Regions from separate parts of the Homo sapiens genome. Here all the other regions are linked to region 1. The links come from fine-mapping of genetic effects on gene expression. A gene starts in region 1. Each other region holds a variant in brackets. All regions are shown on one strand. Distances are from middle to middle. Region 1 holds the start of PLEKHG5 (pleckstrin homology and RhoGEF domain containing G5). Region 2 has its middle 3.4 kb from the start of KCNAB2. Region 3 overlaps NOL9 (nucleolar protein 9). Region 4 overlaps ESPN (espin). Region 5 overlaps NOL9 (nucleolar protein 9).

Region 1 (5,167 bases):
AAACTGATACCCAGAAACCAGATGCGGAGGCTGATGAATAATGGAGTCTCCAAGGCAGGACCCCCGCACCCGGCTGTTCTCCCTCAGTATCACCTCCCCCAGCCCCAGAAAAGCAGATGGGAAACCAGGGATCCCCCAGGCATCCCTGCCCCACAACGAGCTGGGGCCCCAGCCTGGTCTGGGTGGGAGAGGGACTTCCCTGTCCAGGAAAGGACGCAGGTCTGGGGCCAGCTCCAGGCTCTGCCGACAGCAGACGGGCCTGGAACCAGGAGTCCGAGCTCTCTGGCTGGAGGGATGTCCTTGCCAGGAATTCCCACCAAGGCTAAGCTCCCCTGGGAGCCTGCTAGTCCCAAGGCCCCACCCAACACCTTAGAAATCCAGGGGTGGAGACTGCATGCATGGGCAGGCCAGCCAGGGCGGGGTGGCTTTGCCAGGCGGCTCTCTACGCTCCACCCGGCCTACCCACCCTCCTTTCCCCTAGGCCCAGGCCTCACCCATCACCCCTTGGGTTCTGAGGCTCACCTGGAGTCAGAGCCTGACCTAAGGCCCTGCCCTGTGCCGGGCAGATGGCAGGGACACAGAAAACCTCTCCCCAGGCTAAGCCCACCGCACGGGCCCTGGAAGCCAGGAAGGCCCCTTCCTCCCCAGGGAGCGGTCCTGGCTAGTATGCCCAAGGCTGGGACCCAGTGCTAGAGAAAGAGGGAGGGGCTGCAGTCTGTGAACATCCCCTCCTGCCCAGCCTCTGCAGTTCCCAGCCCCAGACCCCAGCGTGTGTCTTCGGAGCACCTGGACTAGCAAGCCCTTCCCCGGTGCAACTTAGAAGCCTCCTTGGTAGGGAGCGGGGGAAAGAGGGCACCTGCCTGGGCTTCAGAAGACCTGGTCTGGAGCCTACGTTCCCCCACCCTTCCCCTACTGGGCCTCAATTTGCCCACCTGTGCCAAGAGGGCATAGAATTCAGTATCTGGGGATGGCTGCCAGGTCCTAGTGTGTGCCCGGACCCCGGCTAAAGGGCAGGAGAATGGTAAAATACCCCCGAGCTCCCTCAACTTGAGGAGTTACTAAGGAATCTGCAGGGGACCTCTTGGCCTCCATTTCCCAGACTTCCACCAAGGCAGGCCAGGGCCTCCCCGGATTCACGGGTCTCCCGCATCCCCCACCCCTAAGTGGGTGCCTGGGTCTGCTCAGACTGCCCGAGGCGCAGCCTCTGGCGCCCCCTGCCGGCCTCGAGAGGGCTTTTCCGCCTGGGACCGACTCCGGGACTGGCCAGATGGGGAGGATCGGCTGAGCCTCCCAGCCACGCCGCGCGCCCGGGCCCCTCCAGGATCCCCCTGCCCCGCCAATACCCCCCATACCGGGGCCAGGGTCCCATAGACTCCTCACGGCCCTATCTCCGAGCCGACCCACCCTAGAGACACTGTGATGGGGGCGGGAGCTTGAACCCATTCCACCCTCACGTAAATGGAGATACAGCTGGTGAGGACCCTGTACCCACCCACAGGCCTGGCACTACGTGGGAATCTCGAATCCGGGTTCTGTCCATCGGTTTAGGGGGGTCCTGGCGCCTAGTCCCACCCCCCGTCCGGAGCGCAGCTCCCACTTCCCCGCGACTCACCTAGGAACAGGACCAGGGTCTCCTCCCCGGTGTCTAAGGCTCTAAGGCTCGGGCCGAGACTGCCAAAGCCTCATGGGGCGCGCGGGGAGAGGGGGACGGGAGCCGCGGGACGGGCTCAGTCGACTCAGCGCAAACTGGGGCGCGGGACGTAGGGGAATTACGGTAGCCGCGCGGGCGCTACCACCTGGACCGGCCGGGATGTACCAACGGCGCCGCCCGGCTGGGACCGGGGAGAGGAGGGGTCCCAGGAAGGGCCCCGCGCCGGAGCCAGGGAGGTGGCTGGAGGCCGGGCGGTGGCTTGGGGTAATCCAGGATCCGGGCTCAGGGGAGGGGGTGGGGGGCGTCACTGTCCCCGAGGGGCCAGCCCTTTGCAGATCTCCAAAAAGTTCAAAGTCCCTGGTCATTAACTTGGGCTTGAAGACGGGAGCTCGCCCATCCCGGAAGGGGGCTAGGGGGGACCAGGGCCCGCGACAGGAAGCCTCCGCGCGACAGAAAAGCCCCGGGGGACCAGGCAGAGAGACCCGCAGGCCTAGCCCGCCCCGGAATCGCCCTGAGCCAGGTTCGCTTCCGCTCTATTGTAAAAAGCTGGATTCTGATCTGCGGCCTCCGCGGTGCCCCAGAAACAGCCCGCTTTTCTCTGGGCCCCCTCTTTTTTTTTTTTCTGGCCCAGGTGATATGGCCGGAAAAGGGTGCTGTTCTGCCATTTAGTGGTTCCCAGTTCCCCTCTCCCAGCAGCGGGAGTTTAGAATAACTCTGGGCTCAGGACTGGGAAGGGTGTGGATACAGGGGGCCCACTCGAGGAGGTGGAGTTCAGGTCCACCAACCTGTTCCGCACTTTCAAGCTTTTTATACAGCCTTCCCCCGACCCCTTCCCAGGCCAAAACCTCCAGACTGCCCCACACAACCCTTGGGGCTGGGCCTATACTAGGGCAGCTCCTGGCTGGGCCAGGGATCCCCACGTCTTCACCTGCTCCCCCAAAACTACTTAGCCAAAACCCAGGAGTCCCCTTGCATTGTTTCTCTGGCCCTGCCCGTTTCTTCAGCTGCAGATAGCCCCACCACCTCTCTCCGGGGACCAGTCACTTCCAGAGATGGCCCAAACCTGGCCATTCCCTGGGGCATCCTGGTCTGCCGCTGCTCACCCCCAAAGCATTGCCCAGGAGAATAGGTGATTGCCTCTCCCATTACTCACATCCTGCCCGTCCCTTCTCCATGGGGGCCTCAGGTCCACCCTTTCCTCTCCCTGGTCTTCATCTCACCACCCCTCCCTCCACACACGCATACCCTGACTCATCCCTGCCACCTCACAGGCCATTGTTAAGCTGCAAGGGAACTCTGAAGTCCTCCCATCCAACCTCCACTCCACACTGCAATCCCCTCTACGCTTCCCTTTCTGTCTCTTCTTGCATATGTCTAGTGATGGGGTGCTCACTACCTCCACTTCGGGGATAGCTCCAGCTGCTGGAAACTCTTTCCTGTAGTGTGCTGAACCCCACCTCCCTGTCAAGGCCTTTGGGAGCTGTGCAGAAAAATTCACCTCCCTTTCCTCCTGAGAGTTCTGAGGAAATGGGAGGCTCTGACAGAGAGGCCTGGTTTGAGTCCTGATCTTGCCTTGCTTGGCAAGTCATTTTACCTCGCCACTCTGCAGGGCCCTCTCTAGGAAACGGAGATGGGGTAGGCCCCACCGCAGCGGGGGAGGCGGCCAGATGAGGTTTCTGTGCCAGGCGCTAAGGCAGGGCCTGGCATACAGTACGTGCTGGATCAATGGCGGCTGCTGGAATCACTACCTCCTCCATGATAAACACCCTCACATGTGGTGCCCAATGTCCCCTGTGGCCCAGGGCCACAAGTGTCCTCCTCCATGCCCCCTTGTGACCTGGGACGCCCTGACTAGACCTCGAACAGTGCCCAGTGGAGCCCAGCAAGGAGCTGGGGAGTCCACACACTGTCCCGTGGCCACCTCACAGGAGGGCAGGGGGAACCCACAATATCATTAGTCTGCCTTGATCTCCCGGCCTTTCTCCATCTCCCCAAACTCACAGCTCCACCTGTGTGCAAGAAGCTGGGATGGAGCCTGGGGAGGTCTCAGATCCCAGGGCAGGTACGGAGGGCACACCCAAAGTCTAGAGGTGACTTTGTTACCCCCACTCCCAGGACACCTTGCACACCTACGCTGTGCTAGGCTCTATGCTAAGCATGTTATATATGGGCCTCTTTTAATCCTCGCTGCCGGGTTATTTTCCAGATGAGGAACCTGGGGTTCAGAGAAGTGTAGTGACTTCCCCAGGGTCGCACAGCTGGAAAAAAGTAGGTTTGATCCTGGAGCTCAGAGGTGTGGACTGCTCTACATATCTTCATCCTGGGGAGGGGCCATTTCTCTCCTGGGGTCTCCATGACACACAGTCCAGACCCCTCATCTGGACATGCAGGTGCTCCTAGTGCAGCCTGCCTCCCCCTCCTCCCGTCCCCTTCTCCCTGTGCCCCCTGGCCTCGCTTGCCCCTTATAGCCCCCAATGTCCCCCCCTGCTCACTCAGCTGTCCTCCATCTCAGTACCTCTTTAATCCTCAGGACTCCAGTTGCCTCCAGGAAGCCCATCCTGGTTAGCCCTCCTCCCAGTGGGAACTCCAGGGGCAGGAGGTAGGGGACAGATGGCAAATTCATCTCAGAAGCTCCAGCACCCAGGAGAGCCTCAAATAAAACATCAAGGGTGGGCCCAGAAGCCGAAGGGTCCAGCCCTGCCTGAAATTGGTCCTTTGCCAGGGCAGCCTGGGGGGAAGTTTGGCCAGCCAGGGTCACTTCCCTTCCTTCCTCCCAGCACAGCTAGAATGTCACCTCCAGGAGGGCATCCCCTTTGTTCTCTGGAGATCTCCTGGGCCTAGAACTGGGCCTGGCACCGACAGATGCTCAGAGCTGGTCTGGTAAATGAATAAATGAAGTCATCTCCTTCAAAACGCTAGTCACATCCTGGAGAGTAAGAATAGGGCTCTTGATCAGACAAGCCTCACGCAGGCCAGGCTCTGACGATCATGCTGTGTGATGTGGGCAAGTTCCTCTACCTCTCTGGGCCTCCGTTTCCTTACAAGTCATGTGGTCATAAGAATAACGCTGTTCTCCTGAGGGTCTCAAGAAGCTTCACTGAGACAAGCAGGAGGGCCTAACGCCCCGCCTGGCATGTAAACATGTTCGGTCAGCAATAATTGTTATTATTATTATTATTGGGTGTTTTTTGAGACAGAGTCTCGCTCTGTTGCCCAGGCTGGAGTGCAATTGCGTGATCTCAGCTCACTGCAACCTCCTTCTCCAGGGTCCAAGCGATTCTTCTGCCTCAGCCTCCTAAGTAGCTGGGATTACAGGTGTGTGCCACCATGTCCGGCTAATTATTTTTTATATTTTTGGTAGAGATGGGGTTTCACCATGTTGCCCAGACTAGTCTCGAACTCCTGACCTCAAGTGATCTGCCCACCTTGGCCTCCCAAAGTGCTGGGATTACAGGCATGAGCCCCTGCGCCTGGCCTGTTATTTTTGAGACAGGGTCTTGCTCTGTTGCCCAGGCT
Region 2 (5,167 bases), 450 kb before region 1:
CACACTCCAGGACAGGGGCTGCCCAAGGGCAGGAATCCCAGGAGCTGCGGACATCAGTGGCATCTGAGAAGCTGCCTGACTTAGGAGCTCAATGGCAGCACCAGGAAGCTGCACTGGGCTGGAGTCAGGGCAAGGGACAGTGTCAGCGATGACCCTGGGGGACAGCAGTGCAGTCAGGAGCTCAGAAAGTACACAGATGCCCCCTGGGCGGTCTCTTCTGCACCATGTGGGCAGCAGAAACTACACCTACGGTTTCAGAACAACAGTTGGGGTGGTGTGGAAGGACCTCCACGACATATAAGGTGGGAGTGTGGAGTGATGGAGTGTGGAAACCCTTCTCACAGTTGTCACCTGCTCTCCAGCCCCTCCTGAGCCCGTGGACCTGCCTGCCTGCCGTGTGTCTGTCTGTCGTCTGTCTGTCTGTCTCTCTGCTGAGGGGCTCCCCGATGCCCTGAACCCAGACAGCCTCCTCAGCCTTTGTGATCCCAGAGTCTCCCGGCCAAACCTGGTTGATCTTTTTTAACCACCACCCTCTTCCCCTCCCTTATTTTGCTTTTCTTCCAGAATTTTCCCACTGTAAAAAACCGAGCAAGTCTGGATAAGTGAGGCTGGCTCCATGTATCCAGAATCAACGACGGGCTCCCCGGCTCGGCTCTCGCTGCGGCAGACGGGCTCCCCCGGGATGATCTACAGGTGACCCCCTGCCCCCTCACCCAGGCCCCCTCCCAGGGTCAGTCCTGCTTCGAGGACGGGTTCCCAAGGCCACTGTCCTCCCCTCTGGAGGTGGAAGGGCCCAAGCAGGGCCCACAGGCTTCTGCCTTCCACGGGGTTTTGAGGTGCACGCTGGTGAGCGTTTTCTCCAAGAAAGGAGCAGGGGCTTTAAAAACCCAAGTGGGAAAGAAAAACCAAAACTTTTCCAGGGCGTTTGAGCCAGAGTAGACTCCTTTCTTGTCCCTGACCCTTCCGAAATATCTCGTTTGAGGTTAACAGAGCGGCCGGACAGTGAGTGCACGGCCAACCCCGGCATCCTGTTCCTCCCACTTTATACATCGCAGCCCCTGTGGCCCTGCCAGTTTCTCCTGAGCGAGGATGACGACCTTGCAGGCCTTTGGGGAACCACGTCTGCCGGTTTCCCAACACTGGAGGGAGTGGGGGCGGCCAAATGCTCCTGGGGCATCCTGACCCCCTCCTTGTGGAACTCACTTCCGCTTGCAGCCCTGGGTGTTTCTGTCTGCACCATAAACAGCGCTGAACATCAGCGACAGCTGCGGAGGGCGTTCAGTGAGAGCTGAGCCTCTGGGGACAGAGCATAGAACCCACGAAAGACGCAGGCACAGGCAGTACCCCAGCAGCCCATCAGTCTTGGGAAGCCAGACCTTTCCGGATAATCACTGGGGCCTGAGCCAGAGCCCGTGTCTGTGACAGCCACAGGGAAAGGCAGTGTCTGTCCTAAGAAGAGCCAGGCGGGCAGGTGCGGGTTTGCCAGCACGCGGGTGCTCTGCACGTCTGGGTTGGAGGGTTTTCAGCCATTGCCCACAAGCATATTGCAAAGCAAGTCCTGAAGCACATTCAATCCAAACCAACCCTCACTCGGAGGTTCACCACGGAAAACAGGGCCTGGCATGGAAGGAGCCCTTGGTGTCCAGGAAACTGGCTCCGGGTCTCTGCCCCGTGGCCACCGGGTGGCGCTGCTGCAGAGCACTTGGCACCGGCTGCGCTTCCTCAGAGACTGCCCTGAGCAGGCGACTGGTGGGGGCCCGGGGGCATGGGACATTGGTGGTTCTTTCTGACCTGCACCTGCTGGGGTTGATGCCAACTGTGGACTCTCTCTCTTCTCTCCCTTTCTCCTTTTTCTCTTTTCTCCATTGCTGTCCGAAGTACTCGGTATGGGAGTCCCAAAAGACAGCTCCAGTTTTACAGGTAATGAGTCTTCATTCTCCCTAAAACCCAGCGAGCCGAAGGCCAGGGAGCGGGTGGGAGGACTGCACCCTTGCCGAGCAGGGTGTGCTGGTGTATTCTCTGAAGCCAAAGCCCCCGAGACCCCCAGGCTCTGCTCATCACCCTCTGTGCCTACCCACAGGATGCTGTGCAATGTCCTGATGGAAAATGTGAAGTCAGGTTAATTGTATGTGTTGGTCTGCCAGAAGTTTGCTTTGATTTGAGCAAATGGGCTTTTGATGACTGCCAAGCTCTCAGCCAAATCTACCGTTAAAGCTTCACTCATCAGGCAGTGAGGGAGATGTCTTCCTGTGGTCACCAGCTTGCCCTGCTTCCATTATCAGAGTACAGGACGTGGCGAGCCCATCCGTTCCCCCTTTGCCTGTGGGTTTGACCTGATCTGGAACTCACAGAGCTCCTCAGGCTCATTGAAGGTTAATGCCTGCTTGGGGGTGTGCAGTACTGATACGACGTGGATCAGTGACATCTTTCTGATATGTTTTTCTGTTGGTGAATTAACAAACCGGGCACCTGGCGAGAGACTGTGCCCCAGCAGGATGTGACATCAAGATGCCAGGCTTAGGGCCCTGCAGGGTGCTCTTGGGGAGACCCGTTCCTCTCTCTGGGCTGCCTCTCCCTCACCTGTAAGGCAGGGGATGCATGTTCTTGGTGCAGCCTCCAACCCTAGGAAGTAAAATGTCAGGGCTGCCTGGAGCCCATGGGCAGCAGCCTCCCCATGCCTTGGGACTGTTTGGGGAATTGGCACGGCTTCTGGCAGCAGGTCCCTGGTATGCATTGCTGCATCTTGGCGGTCAGGCCGGGAGGTCTCTCTATTCGGACCCGGACATCTGGTAACAGTGCTTTGGGGATCGTTGCCAATGTGCCAGGCAGTGGTCATGGAGGTGGCAATGTATTTCCATGTAGCTTTTCTCTCCCCGCGCCCCCACTCCCCACCCCCCCCCCCGTTTGCCAGCCATAGCACCTCTGATGGGGACCGTGGACCTAGATGCTCAGAGTGATCTGTGCCACGCCTTCAGTGCCTCCTCGGAGGTCCTGCTCCTTACAGGGAGCTCTGAAGACATGGCCAACTCTTAGATCCTACTGAAATTTTGGTAGATAAGATTTTGCTTAAGATAGTTAAATCTGAACTCCGGCTTGCAAATGCTTTCCCTGGATGAAATGTTTGTATTGTGATGTATGTACACATGGTATAACAGATCCTAACAAACATATGCCGCTCATCCCAGGGGATTTCATCAGTGAAACAAAACATGTACCTGAACTGC[A/G]TCCTCAGAGAGCCGGGAGCAGCCTCAGTCCTCAGAAGGGAAGGGGTGAGGTCTGATGAGCAGGCAGGAAAATCCCAGGTGCAGACCTGCCAGCTCAAAAGGGCTGCCCACAGGTACAGACCATCCAGCTCCAAGGGCCTGCCCCTAGGAGGGGCCAAGTAAATTATCCAGTGACCAAGTGAGAGCCTTCCAGCCCACTCAAGGCCCTCAAAACCCCACAGGCTCAACATGTTGTCCCCCCCGCCGGGATCCCTGTGCTTAAGAACCTTCATTTCCAGGTGGCCTTCCTGGCCCCAAGGGAAGCTCTGAAGCTTACCCTCTAGGCTCTCAGCCCCAATTCTGGTGCCCACAGGCTCTGGCCATCCTACCCGTTGGATCTCCAGGGGGTCACTTGGGTGTCTCTTGTGGGGGCTCTGGAGATGACCTCTAAGGGCTAGGGTCTTTGTTTGTTAACAGGCTGGGGGCCACTCCTAGTAGGGCACCCTCATCACACCAAGCATACCACTAAACATGGCTATTGGATGGTTCTTTCAGTTACTTAGGCCTGGCCCTCTCACAGGGCAGAGGCGTTCAAGGCATGTGCCCTGCCCCCATGCAGCTCCCAGGCAAGGAATTGGCATAGGACACTGTGCCAATCAGCTGTCCACCAAGTGCTGCATAACAAACAACTCCAAAACTCAGTGCCACGCAGCAATCAGCATCTCTTCCTTGCTCCCGTGTCTGCGGGTTGACCAGGCAGCTCGTCTAAGCTGGCTTGGCTGGGTTTGTCTCCAAGCTGCAAGTTGGATCCCCATGTCCTCCATCTTCCCATGCTTAACTGGGGCCTACCCCAGGCATGTCCTTCCCATGGCAAAAGTACCAGAGGAAAAGCAGAAACATGCAGGGTCTCTTACGGCCTATGGTTGGGGTCAGAGCGCTGTCACCTCTGCTCACGTGCTTTTGGCCAAAGTAAGTCTCAGGAACCAGCCCACAGTCAAGGGGCTGGAAATATATTGCCCCCACCAGTGGGAGGAGCTATAAAGTCACATGGCAAAGGGCATGGGTACAGAGAGGGGTGAAGGATTGGGAGCAATACTTCCATGTACCCCAGGTCTCAAATAGCCCTGATGATCTCCAGAAGGCAGAGCACGTCACAGGAGAAGCCCAAAGAGCATTTGGGGTCCAAGGAAGGAGGGGCCACAGCCAGCTGAGAGCCAAGAAGACTTCACGGAGAAGGCAGCAGGGGCTTGGATCTGGTCCTTGAAGGCTGGGCAGGATTCAACGCAGAGGCTGGGAAGCATATTCCAGTAGATACAACAGCCTGAGCCACAGCTCAGAGGTGTGCACAGAGAACAGGAAGTGACAGTTACCCAGCCTGGGCCATCAGGGACATGATGGAGAATAAAGAGAGGCTGGCTGTAGAGGTGGATGTTGGTGGGGGGCCTCGAATGCCTAGCGATGGGGCACAGATGCACTCAGAGGGCACTGGGGAGCCATCTATGGTGTTTGAGCAGGGCAGGGGTCAGAGATCTGCTCTAGGAAGGAAGCCTGGTAGCAGGGAGTAAGACAGGGAAGAGAGAGGCTAATGCAAGGAGACCAGACAGTGCCCAGGAAAGGTGCAGGACGGCTGAGCTCCAGGAACTGCACAGAGAGAGAATGAAGGGGTGCAGGGCCTGAAAAAAGGACGTCAGAAGCCACGTCCACAGGGCTTGGCCACTGATGGGCAGGTGCTGAGACAGAAAGGGACAGAGAGGAGCAGTGGACCCAGGGAAGGAGAGGGCCTCATTCGGAGCATGTTAGGCTGCAGCTACCACCCAGTAGTGAGGCGCAGGCCCCCCGACCAGGGCGACATGTGGGGATCTGACAGAGTGGGCTTGGGCCTTTGGGGACAAACCATTTCAATTGCCAAGGCCTTCGCAGCTAGTCACCCGCAGCCAGGCACCTCCAGACTCTACGTGCTCTCC
Region 3 (5,000 bases), 50 kb after region 1:
TTTTGGGATGCTGAGGCAGGTGGATCGCCTGAGGCCAGGAGTTCGAGACCAGCCTGGCCAATGTGGTGAAACCCTATCTCTACTAAAAATACAAAAATTAGCCAGGCGTGGTGTAGTTCCAGCTACTTGGGAGGCTGAGGCAGGAGAACTGCTTGAACCCGGGAGGTGGAGGCTGTAGTGAGCTGAGATCACGCCACTGCACCTCAGCCTGGGCGAAAGAGCAAGACTCTGTCTCAGAAACAAACGAACAAAAAAAACACACAAGCAATATTCAAGGACTGGAACAGACATTTTTCCAAAGAAGATATACAAATGGCCAATAAGTACATGCTCAACATCATTAGTCATTTAAGGGAATGTAAATGAAAACCAACATGAGACATTACTTCACACAAACTCAGACAGCTATAATCAAAATAAGCATTGGTGAGGATACGGAGAAATCAGAACTCTTGTGCATTGCTGCTGGGAATGTAAAATGCAGCTACTGTGAAAAACAGTTTGGCAGTTCTCAAAACATTAAACACAGAACTACCATAAGACCCAGCAATTCCACTCCTCGGTATACACCTGAAAGAACTGAAAGCAGGATATGGAGGAGATATTTGAATACCCATGTTCATAGCAGGATTATTCACGAAAGCCAAAATGTGGAAAGAAGCCAAGTGTCCCTTAACAGCTGAATGGATAAACTAAATGTGATATACACATACAATTGAATAACATCCAGCCATCAAAAAGAATTATTATTATTATTATTTATTGAGGCAGAATCTCACTGTTTGTCACCCAGGCTGGAGTGTAATGGTGCAATTTCAGCTCACTGCAGCCTCTACCTCCCAGGTTCAAGTGATCCTCCTGCCTCAGACTCCCAAATATCTGGGACTATAGGCATGGACCACCAAGCCCAGCTAACTTTTGTATTTTTTTTAATAGGGACTGGGTTTCACCATGCTACCCTGGTCTCAAACTCCCAGGCTCAAGCAATCTGCCGGCCTTGGCCTCCCAAAGTGCTGGGATTACAGGTGTGAGCCATGGCACCTGGCCAGGAATTAAATTTTGATACATGCTACAACATGGATGGATTTTGACAATACTATGCTGAGTGAAATAAGCCAGACAAAGGATAAGTATTGTGTGACTCCACTTACATGAGAATAGCCAAATTCATAGGGACAAAAAGTAGAACAGAGGTGAAGTCTCTAGGGGCTAGGAAAGAGGACAAGAGGAGGACAAGAGGGAGTTAAGGGAGTTACTCTTTTTTTTGAGACAGAGTTTTGCTCTTGCTGCCCAGACTGGAGTGCAGTGGTGAGATCTCGGCTCACCGCAACCTCTCCCTCCCGGGTTCAAGCGATTCTCCTGCCTCAGCCTCCCAAGGAGAGTTATTCTTTTTTTTTTTTTTTTGAGACAGAGTCTTGCTCTGTCGCCCAGGCTGGAGTGCAGTGGTGAGAGCTCAGCTCACTGCAAGCTCCGCCTCCTGGGTTCATGCCATTCTCCTGCCTCAGCCTCCCAAGTAGCTGGGACTACAGGCGCCCGCCACTACGCCTGGCTAATTTTTTGTATTTTTAGTAGAGACGGGGTTTCACCATGTTAGCCAGGATGGTCTCGATCTCCTAACCTCGTGATCCACCCGCCTTGGTCTCCCAAAGTGCTGGGATTACAGGCATGAGCCACCAAGCCCAGCCGAGAGTTATTCTTTAATGAGTACAGTTTTCATTTTGGGATGACAAAAAACCACACCCGACTAATTTTTAAATTTTTTGTAGAGACAGGGTCTCACCACGTTGCAAACACAACAAAAAAGTTGTGGCCAGGCACAGTGGCTCATGCCTACAATCCCAGAACTTGGGAGTCAGAGGTGAGTAGATGACCTGAGGTCAGGAGTTCGAGACCAGCCTGGCCAACATGGTGAAACGCTGTCTCTACTAAAAATACAAAAATTAGCTGGGCATGGTGGCGTGCGCCTGCAGTCACAGCTACTCAGGAGGCTGATACAGGAGAATAGCTCGAACTCAGGAGGCGGGGGTTACAGTGAGCACAGATCACACCACTGCACTCTAGCCTGCCTAGGTGACAGAGCAAGACTCCATCTTAAAAAAAAAAAAGCAAGCAAGGTGGTACTTACTCCAGCAGCACATATACTAAAAAACTGGAATGATACAGAGAAGACTGGCAATGGGCCCCGCACAAGGATAACATATTATTTTTTTTAAGTGATGTAGAACTGTGGATAACTGGTGAATTTTCAATAAAATCTGTAGACTGGTTAACAGCGTTTTTTTTTTTTTTTTTTTTTTTGAGATAGAATCTCACTCTGTTGCCCAGGTTGGAGTGCAGTGGAATGATCTTGGCTCACTGCAACCTCCACCCCTGGGTTCATGCGATTCTCCTGCCTCGGCGTCCCAAGTAGCTGGGACTATAGGCACGTGCCACCAAACCCAGCTAATTTTTGTTTTTTTGGGTTTTGAGATGGAGACTTGCTCTGCCGCCCAGGCTGGAGTCAGTGGCTTGACCTCAGCTCATTGCAACTTCCGTCTCCCGGTCAAGCAATTCTCCTGCTTCAGCCTCCCGAGGAGCTGGGACTACAGGCGTGCACCACCATGCCCAGCTAATTTTTGTATTTGTAGTAGAGATGGGGTTTCCCCATGTTGGCCAGGCTTGTCTCGAACTCCCTACCTCAGGTGATGCACCAGCCTCAGCCTCCCCAAGTGCTGGGATTACAAGTGTGAGCCACCACAGGCAGCCTGATTAACAGTATTGATTCAGTATTAATTTCTTAGTCTCGATAGTTGTACATAAGATGTTGAAAT[T/C]AGGGAAACATGTGTTTCTAATTTACATAAAACAAAATAATTTTTGCCACCATACCCAACTAATTTCATAAAACAAAATGAGTAGCAGTTCCATTTCCTAAAATGAGAAAGCACCATAGTTTGTTTTTTGGAGGTTAGAGGAACAAGTTATGGAAAGACCATGAGTTTGGTAGGCGCATGTTCCCTTTTAATATTTTATACTCTTCGATTTCTGAGTTTTTGTTAGCATCATCACATATGAATTTCATAAAACCAAGACATTTGAGAAATATGTAATACATACCCAGAACTGGTTCTGTAATATTAAGCAAAGAAATGCAACCAGGAGGGGTAAATTCTGTCTGTCCCAGATCACATTCCAAATAGTCAACGCAGGGAAGACTGCAAATTTTTAAAAAAGAAAAAAGAAAGAAAATCCTAACTAGCTTTACTCAGTAGAAAGGATAATCACACAGTAAAGATTTCATGTGACACGCAGGCATAATCCACCACACACAGCACTTTAGAAGTGAAGCCTCAAGATGACAATCGCTGTTTAAAAACGAGTCCAGAGAAACGCAGTGCAGGCATGGTCACAATGTCCATTTGTAACACGGATAACAACTTGCTCTTTCAGATTTTTTTTTTTTTTTTACGATGGAGTCTCACGCTGTTGCCCAGGCTGGGCTGCAGTGCACAATCTCGGCTCACTGCAAGCTCCACCTCCTGGGTTCATGCCATTCTCCTGCCTCAGCCTCCGGAGTAGCTGGGACTACAGGCACCCACCACCATGCCCGGCTAATTTTTGTATTTTTAGTAGAGACAGGGTTTCACCATGTTAGCCAGGATGGTCTCGATCTCCTGATCTCGTTCGTGATCTGCCCACCTCGGTCCCCCAAAGTGCTGGGATTATAGGCCTGAGGCACTGAGCCCAGCTGAATTTTTTTTTTGAGATGGAGTCCTGCTCTGTCGCCCAGGTTGGAGTGCAGTGGCGCGATCTTGGCTCACTATAACCTCCGTCTCCCGGGCTTGAGCAATTCTCCTGCCTCAGCCTCCCAAGTAGCTGGGATTACAGGCATGTGCCACCACGCCCGGCTAATTTTTTCTATTTTTAGTAGAGACGGGGTTTCACAGTGTTAGCCAGGATGGTCTCGATCTCCTGACCTTGGGATCCGCCTGCCTCAGCCTCCCAAAGTGCTGGGATTACAGGCATGAGCCACCGTGCCCAGCTAATTTTTGTATTTTTAGCAGAGACAGGGTTTCACCATGTTGGCCAGGCTGGTCTTGAACTCCTGAACTCAAGTGATCCACCTGCCTCGGCCTCCCAAAGTGCTGGGATTACAGGCATGAGCTAACACTCAGCCATTTTTCATATAAGTTTATTTTTTCTTGAGACAGGGTGTCACCGAGTCACCCAGGCTGGAGTGCAGTGATCAGAACTCACTGCAGCCTCGACCTCCTGGGCTCAAGCAATACTCCCTCCTTAGCCTCCCAAGTAGCTGGGACCACAGGCACATGCCACCATGCCTGACTAATTTCTAAATTTTTTGTAGAGACAGGGTCTCATTACGTTGCCCAGGCTGGTCCGAAACTCCTGGGCTCACGCAATCCTCCTACCTCAGCTTCCCAAAGTGCTGGGATTACAGGCAGAAGCCACGGTGCCCAGCCTTTTTTTCTTTTTTTTTTTTGAGACAGAGTCTTGCTCTGTCGCCCACGCTGGAGTGCAGCGGCACCATCTCGGCTCACTGCAAGCTCCTCCTCCCAGGTTCACGCCATTCTCCTGCCTCAGCCTCCCGAATAGCTGGGACTACAGGTGCCTGCCACCACGCCCAGCTAATGTTTTGTATTTTTAGTAGAGACGGGGTTTCCCCGTGTTAGCCAGGATGGTCTCGATCTCCTGACCTCGTGATCTGCCCGCCTCAGCATCCCAAAGGCTTGGGATTACAGGCGTGAGCCACTGCGCCCAGGCTTTATTTATTTATTTATTTATTTAGAGACACAGTGTCACTCTGTTGCCCAGGCTGGAGTGCAATGGTGTGACATAGCTCACTGTAGACTCGAACTCCTTGGCTCAAGCCAGCCTCCCACTTTTGCCTCCCAAAGTGCTGCGACTGCAGATGTAAGCCACCATAACCCACCTCTGTTGTTGTTGTAAAGGTAAAATTTCAGATCTGGCATGGTGGCTTATATCTGTAATCCCAGCACTTTGTG
Region 4 (5,167 bases), 28 kb before region 1:
TTGTTTACCAGAAACATGAAAACTGCCTGTCTGGCCGGGCCGCACTTGTGGCCCCCGGGACCCCACCTCTGGCCCCACCTCCCTCAAGTCTGCGCCCCGTCCCCAGCCAGACCCACTCGCTGCCGGGACCCTTTCACTGCCCCGGTGGAGTGAATAGAGGATGAGGGGCCCTGACCCTGTGTCTCCAACTGCTGCACCCCATCCCGACCCTGTCTCCGCCACCTCGCAGCCCCATTAAAGCGCTCTCATCTGGGCTCCGGTTCACTCACTCGCTGTGGCCGCGACTTGCTCTCTCCTTCTCGGGGTAATTGAGCCAGAGTGGACTCGGGAGGGGCAGGCTTGGGAGCTAAGGCCACACTGGACTCCACCATGGGTGCCAGATCCCGGGGTGACAAGATTCCCGTCCCCTTCGAATCCCTCGAGAAAAGTCCAGTCCACTTAACACCCCAGCCCCGCAGAAACGCCAAGAAGCCGTTTTTGTTTTGTTTTGTTTTCTTTCACAGATTTAATACCGCGATCTCAGCCAAACTCCGGCCGAGAAGTTGAGAAATGTCTTCACCCCCTCTCGACATTCGTTCGTGCTTCTTCGCCTTGGCTGGAGCGATAGGGGCGAGCAGGGGTGGGGCCGGCTGGTGCTGCTACGCAGGGCCGTGCCAGCGGCTTAATAAGTGACATAAAATGTCTACACGCATAAGTAACCGTACTTAGGGCTTCTGCAAGGGCCACCAGAGCGCCTAGGTGGCAAGTGGGCGCCGTGTCACGGGCCGCGCTGCAGGCGGCTGCGCAAGTCTTCCACGCAGCCGTCCAGCCCCATGCGCTCCAGGGCCGCGTAAACGGCTCCGAGGCCCGCGGGCTGCTGCTGGCGCCAGCGCTTGAGCATCTCGTACTGCTGGTCTCGGAAGCGGCCGATCTCCACCTCCACGGCTTCGATCTCTGCCTCGCGCAGCCCCAGCGTGCGCACGAACTCCTTCCAGCGCCGCGCTGGGACCGCGTCCATCACGTCGTAGAGCTGCGGGCCCGGCTGCAGCATCATGGCTGGCGAGCCGGCTGGGGACTCTGGCGAGAGTGTGGGCGCAGCAGCGGGGCCTGGGGCAGGGCCAGAGAGAGCCAATTGGGGTACGTGGGCCGCGGTCGGGAGGCAGAGTCAGGGGCGTTCGTGCGGGTACCCCAGGGCTGAAGCCCGCTGGATCCGGTGGGTCAGGGCATAGGGCGGACTCCGTCAGTTAGGGGGCAGAAAGGGAACACGTTGTGAAACCACAACTTCCCACCGCAGACAGGAGAATGGGGTCAAGGCCTCAGGCCACTGATGTCCCTTACCAAGAGCTCTGCTGGGCAACTGGTCCCAGGACCATGTCACCTGCGGGCAGAGCGCCTCCTGGGTCTCGGGGTAGCCAGGGGTCCAGCTGTTACCCACCAACTGGACGGTGCAGATCTTCTCACTGCTGTCAGGAGGTGCTAGAAGGGTGTGGGCGCTGTCCAAGGGTGACAGATGGGTGGCCTGGAAGCCAAGAGGGGCCCCAGGTCAGCCCTGCTTGCCAAGTAAGGCCCCTTACCCGCAGTGCCTCTCCAGGAGGGGACAGTCCCTGGTTCAGTCAGCAGACACCCCCGCAATGACACCTCCCACAGTTGGCCCTGCTCTCACTGTAGCCCAGCAGAACTCTTGCTTCTGCCTTGAGTCCCCTGCCCCCGCCTCCTTCCTCTTGTCCCCCAGCACCATGGGGCTCTCCTTCCATTGAACTGTTAGCTCCTGTGTACGAATCTGAACTCCAGCTGACTGAGCACCCCTTGAGGGCAGGCACTGTGCTGGTCTCATCCACTGATGACTCTGCTCCCAACACCTCTGTCCACTAGGGCTACCCGGTGCTGGCCGCGTGCCAAGCTCCAGGGATCATAGTAAGGCTTGATCTTCCAGCTCCAGAAGGCAGCCCAGAATCACACAGTGAGGTTCTTACCGGTGGTGGGGTCAGAGCCTCCATCCCAGCTTCATCTGCTGACAGACACAGAGAGATTGCGGTCAGCCACCAGGCAAGCCTCCTGGACCTGGGTGCTGGTACAGCTCCTCTAGGGTTCCTCTGCACCCCACACTCCCTGCCTCAGTTTCCCCTTCTGTATCAGGGTTGAGTAGACTCTGGGCTACCCATCCTGACCCCAGGCTTCTGGGTGCGTGTGTGGGTGTGTGTACTTACCAGTAACCAGGGGCTTGTGAGGCCAGCAGTGGCGGTATGTGTAGGTCAGGGTGGCCCCAAGCAGGAGGGGGACCACAAGGCCAGCCAGGAGCACCTGGACCCAGAACACTGAAAGCAGCTGGTGGGTGTTGGGTGGTTGCCCCCCTCCTCACCCGCCTCCCCTCGGTCCATCCCAGTTCTCCCACTCGCATTCCCAGCACACCACCTACTCTGCCTCCAGCCACAGACAGCGGCACAGCGCTCTGGACAGCTCCCCAGGGTGCTCCTGCAAGGGACGGGGGTGGCCTGAGGGATGAGGGGGTGCATGCCAGGAGGGGCTCCCTAAGACTGCCCAGCATCTGCTCCATCCTAGAGACCCTTCCCTCCCCAGGCCTCTCACTCTACCCAAGAATGTTCCTGTCATTGTGTCCCTGGTAACAACCACAGACACTATTCACTGAGCTTCTTCTAGACTACATGAAGAGTCACTAGAATGTCAACCCCAAAAGGACAGGGATTTTGCCTATT[T/C]TGTCCCCTGTTGCATCCCCAGCACCTAGAACAGTGTGTAGAACATAGCAGATATTCAATAAAGACTTGAATGGAGGCCGGGCGCGGTGGCTCATGCCTGTAATCCCAGCACTTTGGGAGGCCAAGGCGGGTGGATCACGAGGTCAGGTGATCAAGACCATCTTGGCTAACACGGTGAAACCCCGTCTCTACTAAAAATACAAAAAATTAGCCGGGGGTGGTGGTGGGCTCCTGTAGTCCCAGCTACTTGGGAGGCTGAGGCAGGAGAATCACTTGAACCCAGGCAGCAGAGGTTGTAGTGAGCCAAGATCGTGCCACTGCACTCCAGCCTGGGTGACAGAGCAAGTCTCCATCTCAAAAAAAAAAAAAAAAAAAAAAAAAAAAGACTTGAATAGCTACAGAAAGTCCCTTACCTCTGATCAAAGGCCTGTGAATTAGCTGCTAACATCCCATGTTGAGAAAGGGACACCACACATCAGAGACGCGAATTCTCTGCACTTGCCCAAGATCCCCTAGAGAACTAGCAGCACAGTCCTGACTCTCAGCCCTTTGTATTTATTTATTTAATAGATTTAATATTTAATATTTAATAGATTTAATATTTATTTATTTATTTAATAGGTCTCGCTCTGTTGCCCAGGCTGAAGTGCAGTGGCACGATCATAGCTCACTGCAGCCTCAACCTCCTTCAGCCCAAGTTTTAAAGCTATATCAATGTGACTCTCTGTGTAAGTGACAAATCATCTGTAATATCTGGCTAGGATCGCTGGGGGGAATGCTGGCTGAAAGTGAAGGCAAATACCCTTATGTATCTGGCTAAGGCGGATCCAGATTGCTCTTTTGCCATCTAAGTTTGCCTGAAGTGGGGCCCACCCATCACAGGGCCAAGGCTCCCTCCTCCCTATCCCCTCTTCCTATTCCTGAACCAGCAGCACCTGCCCCACCCCAGGCCCCTGCTCTGCTCCCAGCCGCCCTTCCCTCCATCCCACGACAGCTAGGAATTACGTGGGGCAGGACACGCAGCCATCGCCATGTTCATAGAAGCCAGGCAGGCAGGTCCCACAGTCAGTATCTCTGCGGGAACCTGCAATCCAGGAGAGGCATGCGTCACCATGGGACAGGAGTGGGTCAGGCAGGGAGAAGGGGGTCTGGGAGTAGAGAGCCCTGGGTGGGGGTACTCACAGAGTAGCCGTGTGTGGCGGTGCAGGGCCCCGCAGTCTAGGCATGGTTGGCAGTAGAAGGGTGAACTGCTGACACATTGGCTGACCTGGCACTCCACAAACCAGCCTGGCTTACAGCCACAGCGGGTGTCGGCCACTGCTGAACAGTTCTCCAGCGCCACCTGGGAGGCTGGTGGGGGTGCAGGGAGATGGGGAGTGGAGAGTTAGTCAGGGCCAAAGGCTCCCATGGAGAGGCAGAGGCATTATCCCAAGATAATGGAGACAGAAATAGGCGAAAGACAGACAGGTACAGGGCTACCCTAAAAAAGAGAGAAGCTCAGAGATTAAGGCCGACCAGAGGCCAAGGCACATGGAGAGATGGGAAGGTCACCAGGAAGAGAGAAGGGGCAAGGGCACCCTGAAGGAGGATCAGGGTGGAGGGTTCTGGCAAGGGTGGGTGCAGGACCCTCACACCCCAAGTTTGGGCCCGAGCCAGCCACTTCCTTCAGAAAGGCCTGTCCTTAGGAACTCCCTGCCAAGCACTGAGAAGCCCCTCACCCTGCTCATCACAGGCCTGGCAGCGGGCACATTCAGAATTATGGTGGTTCTCCCAGGCCAAGAAGGTGTCTTGGGGACACACAAGGCAGGTGGAGTTGCCGCAGGGCTCCGTGCAAGGGGCCTTCAGGTAGTGCCCTGTGGAACCAGGCAGGGGTCAGGCAGGCAGAGGGGCTGCCCAGCAACCCCCGACCTGCTTCCCACCCTGCCCTCCCTCCCTCTTTCTCTCCAGCTCCCTACTTCTCTGTCAGCCTACCCCTACCTCCCCTGCCAGCCTCCTCTTACCTCCCGGGCCTGCCCGCCACCTCTCCAGCCCTGCCTGCCCCATGCCTCTCCCACCCCTGTGGCCACTTACCCGCTGGGCAGCCTCTGCAACAAAACAGACCAATCTTCTTGTGGAAGTCACCGGCACAGTCACACCTGGGGCTACGAGTGCCGCCCTGGGCCCGGGCCCCCAGCAGCACCAGGAGGAGCGCCTGGGGGACAGGTGCTGCTGACTCTCAGCGCAGCTGCCCACGTGGGGCCTCTCCCTGCTGCGTCTCCTCCATTTCAGAGGCCCCAGCATTTGCCCACAGAGCAGCCCACTTCCCAGGCCCCGGGCAGAAGGGGTGCCCATGGGTGGAGAGGAAACTAACTTCCTTCCCCCCGCGCACACACCAGGCTTCGGAGGGGGCGCTTACCAGCCCCTCACAAGTTTCCCCTCCACCAGAGCAGGAATCCAGCAGCGCCCCCACCCCCACCCATGCTTTCTGTTGGGGG
Region 5 (5,000 bases), 31 kb after region 1:
GGTGGCTTTCCCCTGCCAGGCAGAGAGGGGCTGGTCACAGCGGGAGATCAAGTGAGCCTCAAAACATTAGAAAAACCCAAGCCAGTCTGCAGAGCACCGCAGCCGCCTCAGGGCCGGTTACCATAGCTACCCTTGGCTTCCCAGCCCAGCACATGTCTGCCCAGCTGAACTCTGCTGATTCGCAAGACTTTGCTTGCTCAGCTCCTGGCACTGCAGACTGGACCTGCTGCCCCCAACTCGGCGGCTACCGCTCTTCCTGGCAAAGCCTTGGGAATACTTAACTTAGCAAGGTCTTTCTGAAAAGGCCCTGAACATCACGTAGGCTTCCCCACTTACTGCATAGATGGCCCCCATATTTACTTTAGCCACTGTTCAGGCTGGGCTTGTCAGCCAATCTCTCTCTGCTAGGCCCAACCCTATGAGGTGTGGGAAGACAAGGGCTGAGTCCTCGCTGCCGAGAGGCAGTTTTATCGGCACAGCACTAGGTGGGGGTTTGTTTCAGTTTTTTTTTTGTTTTTCTTTTAAGTAGATGGTGTCTCACTATGTTGACCAGGCTGATCTCAAACTCTTGGCCTCAAGTGATCCTCCTGCCTCAGCCTTCCAAGGTGCTGGGATTACAGGCATGAGTCATTTTAGTTTTTTAAAACTTGAACTCTTCCAGGAGCAAAGCCCTGTTTCCTTCTAATACACTCCCAAAGACAGTCCAGAAAGAATGCAACATCCCCTCTTTACTTACATATGAACCAAGACAGGAAAATTAAACTCCCACTTGAGCTTCAAGTCAGTGACAAATAAAAATTAAAAATACTGAAAAAATAAACTCCCACTGCACTCAATACTTCAATGGTTAAAAACAACAACAACAAAACAGGCCAGGCACAGTGGCTCATGCCTGTAATCCCAGCACTTTGGGAGGCCGAGGCGGGTGGAACACCTGAGGTCAGTTTAAGACCAGCCTGGCCAATATGGTGAAACCCCCTCTCTAGTAAAAATACAAAAGTGAGCTGGGTGTGGTGGTGCCTGCCTGTCGTCCCAGCTACTGGGGAAGCTGAGGCAGGAGAATTGCTTGAATCTGGGAGGTGGAAATTGCAGTGAGCCGAGATTGCACCATCGCACTCCAGCCTGGGCAAAAGAGACTCTGTCTCAAAAAGAAAAAAAAGGGCACAACAAAACAAACAAACAAACACATCACAAGCATTTGCTGGAGTCTCCACACTTCATTAACCGCCTTTCAACATTTTTTTTCCTCCCAGTGTTTTTTCACTATAGTTTCTTCTAAGCATTTAAGTGATTACCTGGAATAAAATGACCTATCTACATAAAATTACACAACTAAATTCATGTTTTCAAAAATATTTAATGATACAAAAGTTCATCTGTTAACTGAAAAGAGCTGAACAGAAACCATACATATTTTGTAAAATACACACACACACAGCAGAACCCCAGCTGAGACACCTCACAGTGTCAGTGATTACTATGTGGTGGTGGGCTGGAGGATCATTTTCTACATGTGTAAGCTGCTTATAAAATTTTAAAAGCAACAAGTGGGGGTTTATGAAAAACTTTCAGGAATGGGTTATCTATGGTGGCCGTGGAGCTTGCTTCCTCAAGGGCTCTTTGACCACAGGAAGCTTGGTAGCAACAATTTTAAGGTGAACCTGCCAGAGGCAAGATGAGTAAGTAGCTGTGGATTCATTTAGTTTCTGCATCCCTCCAGCATGACCGTGAGTAGCACAGCCGTGGTGCCAGCCTCCTGAGTTTACCATCTCATCAGAGGCTAGCTACACACTAGGAGTTACTGACCGTTTCTACATGCCGGAGACTGTGCTACATCTCTTATAGACATGACTTCACTTACTCCTCACCCAGGAACACTGAAGGAAGGACAATTACCCAATCTTCAAAACATAAAACAGGCTCAGGCTAAGCATCTTCCTCCAAGTTACACCACTGACAAGTGGTAGAGCCAGGATTTGAACTCAGAGCTCTATAATCAAAGCCTGCTGTCTTATCCATGATCTTGCCATCCAAACCCAAAAACAAATGACCTAGGCCGGGCGCGGTGGCTCACGCCTGTAATCCCAGCACTTTGGGAGGCCAAGGTGGACGGATCACGAGGTCAGGAGCTCGAGACCAGCCTAGCCAACATAGTAAAACCCCATCTCTACTAAAAATACAAAAAAAATTAGCTAGTGTAGTGGCGGGCGCCTGTAATCCCGGATACTTTGAAAATTACATACAAAAATTACTAAGAGGCCCAGGCACAGTGTCTTATGCCTGTAATCCCAACACCTTGGGAGGCCAAGGCAGGCGGATCCCCTGAGGTTGGAAGTTCGAGACCAGCCTGACCAATAAAGTGAAACGCCATCTCTACTAAAAATACAAAAATTAGCTGGGTGTGGTGGCAGGCGCCTGTAATCCCAGCTACTTGGGAGGCTGAAGCAGGAGAATCGCTTGAACCCAGGAGGCAGAGGTTGCAGTGACCTGAGATCAGGCCACTGCACTCCAGCCTTGGCGACAGAGAGTCCGTCGCAAAAGAAAAAAACAAACAAACAAACAAAAACTAAGAGCTTTTGTAAAGAATAGCTTCAGGCCAGGCGCAGTGGCTCACGCCTGTAATCCCAGCACTTTCGGAGGCCAAGGCGGGCGGATCACGAGGTCAGGAGTTCGAGACCAGCCTGACCAACATGGTGAAACCCTGTCTCTACTAAAAATACAAAAATTAGCTGGGC[G/A]TGGTGGCATACGCCTGTAATCCCAGCTACTCAGGAGGCTGAGGCAGGAGAATCGCTTAAACCTGGGAGGCGGAAGTTGCAGTGAGCCGAGATCACTCCACTGCACCCCAGCCTGGGCGACAGAGCTAGACTCTGTCTCAAAAAAAAAAAAAAAAAAGAAATTGCTTCAGCACTTTGGGAGGCCGAGGCAAGCGGATCACAAGGTCAGGAGATCGAGACCAGCCTAGCCAATACGGTGAAACCCTATCTCTACTAAAAATATAAAAATTAGCCAGGCATGGTGGCGCTCACCTGTAATCCCAGCTACTTGGGAGGCTGGGGCAGAAGAATCACTTGAACCCGGGAGGGGAGAGGCTGTAGTGAGCCAAGGTCGTGCCACTGCACCCCAGCCTGGGTGACAGAGCGAGACTCTGTCTCAAAAAAAAAGAAAAAAAAAAAAGAATAGCTCCAATGGAGAACTCCTTACTACCTAATCTGACCCATAACAGACTGTGGAAATGATAAAAAGTCCAATCTTGTCCTTCTTCTAAATGCCCTTAAAGCCACTGCCACCAGCCGGGTGCGGTGGCTCATGCCTGTAATCCCAACACTTTGGGAGGCCAAGGCAGGTGGATCACCTGAGGACAGGAGTTCAAAACCAGCCTGGCCAACATGGTGAAACCCCTTCTCTACTAAAAATAGAAAATCAGCCAGGCATGGTGGCGCATGCCTGTAATCCCAGCTACTCGGGAGGTTGAGGCAAGAGAATCACTTGAACCCGGGAGGCGGAGGTGGCAGTGAGCCCAGATTGCGCCACTGCACTCCAGCCTGGGCAACAAGAGCGAAACTCCATCTCAAAAAAAAAAAAAAAAAAAAAAAAGGATAAAAAGGCCACTGCCATCAATAATGGGATGAATTGTCATCCTGGAGAATGGTGCTGCTGCAGGTCTGACCGGCACAAGCTAGACCTGACAGAGGCCTTGGCTCCCTGTCTCCGAACCTCCTTCCCTAAACCCTGTACAGCTTCCTGGGCCAACTCTAGCCCCAGTACGGCCACCTGACCCACAGCTGATAGCTCCCTCTAGAGGCAACGATTTTTCTTTACTGATAGGGACTGAAGAAAAAGACTTGACCTTCATACAGGCCGCATTTAAAGCCTGAAGGCAAACCTAGATTGAATGCAAATGCAATTACAGGGCACCAGTTTCATTCTTCCAGAGCCTTGCTGCAAATGACCTCCAGTGAGTATAACTGTAAGATACACGAAAGTGGAGAAAGGCAAAACATTGATGGTGATGGATTGTCTTAAAATTCTTTACAAGGCCAGCACAGTAAAACATCATATGAATGAGCCAGATTTCAACATAAATAAGGGGCAACTAAGAAGCTAGACTCAATTGTCTCAAAGGTATCAAAACTAATCACCATAGCAAGGTTTCCTGTGCTTATTTTAAGTCCTTTGCTGTTGGGTCTAAGAGGTGCTGAGGGGCCACTGTAAAATACTAAAGACAATGATAACCAACAGTTGTATAAGTGTATATAAGTGTTAAAACCCACACATCCTAATAGTCTTACAATGTGATCATGCTGGGAAGATGGAATTCTGTCAAAGCGGTGGTCACAATACCAGTTTGAACCTCAGCCCCAGGAAGTATCCTGCTGTCTTAAATGCAGAAATGATGTGACCTGGTCCCATCACCCGTTTACACAAACCACTTCCAACCTAGAGGACAGAGTCGGAAGCACCAGGGAGAACGTGGAGAATGGCAGTCTGGTCACCAGCCGCCGGCACCCCCAGGAAAAAGCTCTAAATGGCAGGGTTGTTCATAGGTGCAAGTTCAGGTCCAGCCTCCCACAGGCAATAATGGAGCTTTCCCAAGAGCTGGTCTGCCAGTCCTTCTTCCTTCAAAACAGCCCAGTCTCCAGCTCTGCCCTGTGGTTGTCTCTGGCCTCAGATCAGAAGTCAATTTGGACAAATCTACTTTTATAAGAGCCCCCAGAAGAGGTTTTCCAGATTATTATTTTTTTTTTTTGAGATGGAGTCTTGCTCTTGTTGCCCAGGCTGGAGTGCAGTGGCGTGACCTCGGCTCACTGCAAGCTCCGCCTCCTGGGTTCATGCCATTCTCCTGCCTCAGCCTCCTGAGTAGCTGGGACTATAGGCGCCCACCACCACGCCCAGCTAGTTTTTTGTATTTTTAGTAGAGACGGAGTTTCACTGTGTTAGCCAGGATGGTCTCAATCTCCTGACCTCGTGAACCGCCTGCCTTGGCCTCCCAAAGTGCTGGA

What was found. PIP is the estimated chance that this variant, and not a neighbour inherited with it, causes the effect.
Region 2: its variant is fine-mapped to the expression of PLEKHG5 in fibroblasts (GTEx, PIP 0.97).
Region 3: its variant is fine-mapped to the expression of PLEKHG5 in whole blood (INTERVAL, PIP 0.96).
Region 4: its variant is fine-mapped to the expression of PLEKHG5 in cerebellar hemisphere (GTEx, PIP 0.96).
Region 5: its variant is fine-mapped to the expression of PLEKHG5 in follicular helper T cells (Schmiedel 2018, PIP 0.95).

What each region holds. Positions count from the first base shown.
Region 1 is chr1:6,488,833-6,493,999 of GRCh38, forward strand. It overlaps PLEKHG5 (pleckstrin homology and RhoGEF domain containing G5), which reads right to left and starts at 2,835. Exons shown (of 21, transcript NM_020631.6): 1 at 2,805-2,835. RefSeq lists silencers at 1,126-1,485, 1,896-1,985, 2,046-2,125.
Region 2 is chr1:6,039,953-6,045,119 of GRCh38, forward strand. It overlaps a transcript of KCNAB2 not described here. Among named protein-coding and RNA genes, the nearest start is that of KCNAB2, 3.4 kb to the right of the region's middle. The variant A/G (reference allele first, on the strand shown) is at 3,225.
Region 3 is chr1:6,538,737-6,543,736 of GRCh38, forward strand. NOL9 (nucleolar protein 9) reads right to left here. Exons shown (of 12, transcript NM_024654.5): 6 at 3,094-3,191. It also overlaps the pseudogene RNU6-731P. Among named protein-coding and RNA genes, the nearest start is that of NOL9, 13 kb to the right of the region's middle. The variant T/C (reference allele first, on the strand shown) is at 2,811.
Region 4 is chr1:6,460,677-6,465,843 of GRCh38, forward strand. ESPN (espin) reads left to right here. Exons shown (of 13, transcript NM_031475.3): 13 at 1-268. TNFRSF25 (TNF receptor superfamily member 25) reads right to left here. Exons shown (of 10, transcript NM_003790.3): 2 at 4,764-4,884; 3 at 4,412-4,546; 4 at 3,876-4,043; 5 at 3,699-3,777; 6 at 2,396-2,451; 7 at 2,187-2,294; 8 at 1,953-1,990; 9 at 1,318-1,498; 10 at 110-1,086. The coding sequence ends at 758. Among named protein-coding and RNA genes, the nearest start is that of TNFRSF25, 2.9 kb to the right of the region's middle. The variant T/C (reference allele first, on the strand shown) is at 2,694.
Region 5 is chr1:6,520,010-6,525,009 of GRCh38, forward strand. NOL9 (nucleolar protein 9) reads right to left here. Exons shown (of 12, transcript NM_024654.5): 12 at 1,338-5,000. It also overlaps a transcript of PLEKHG5 not described here. Among named protein-coding and RNA genes, the nearest start is that of PLEKHG5, 31 kb to the left of the region's middle. RefSeq lists a silencer at 1-214 and an enhancer at 280-574. The variant G/A (reference allele first, on the strand shown) is at 2,736.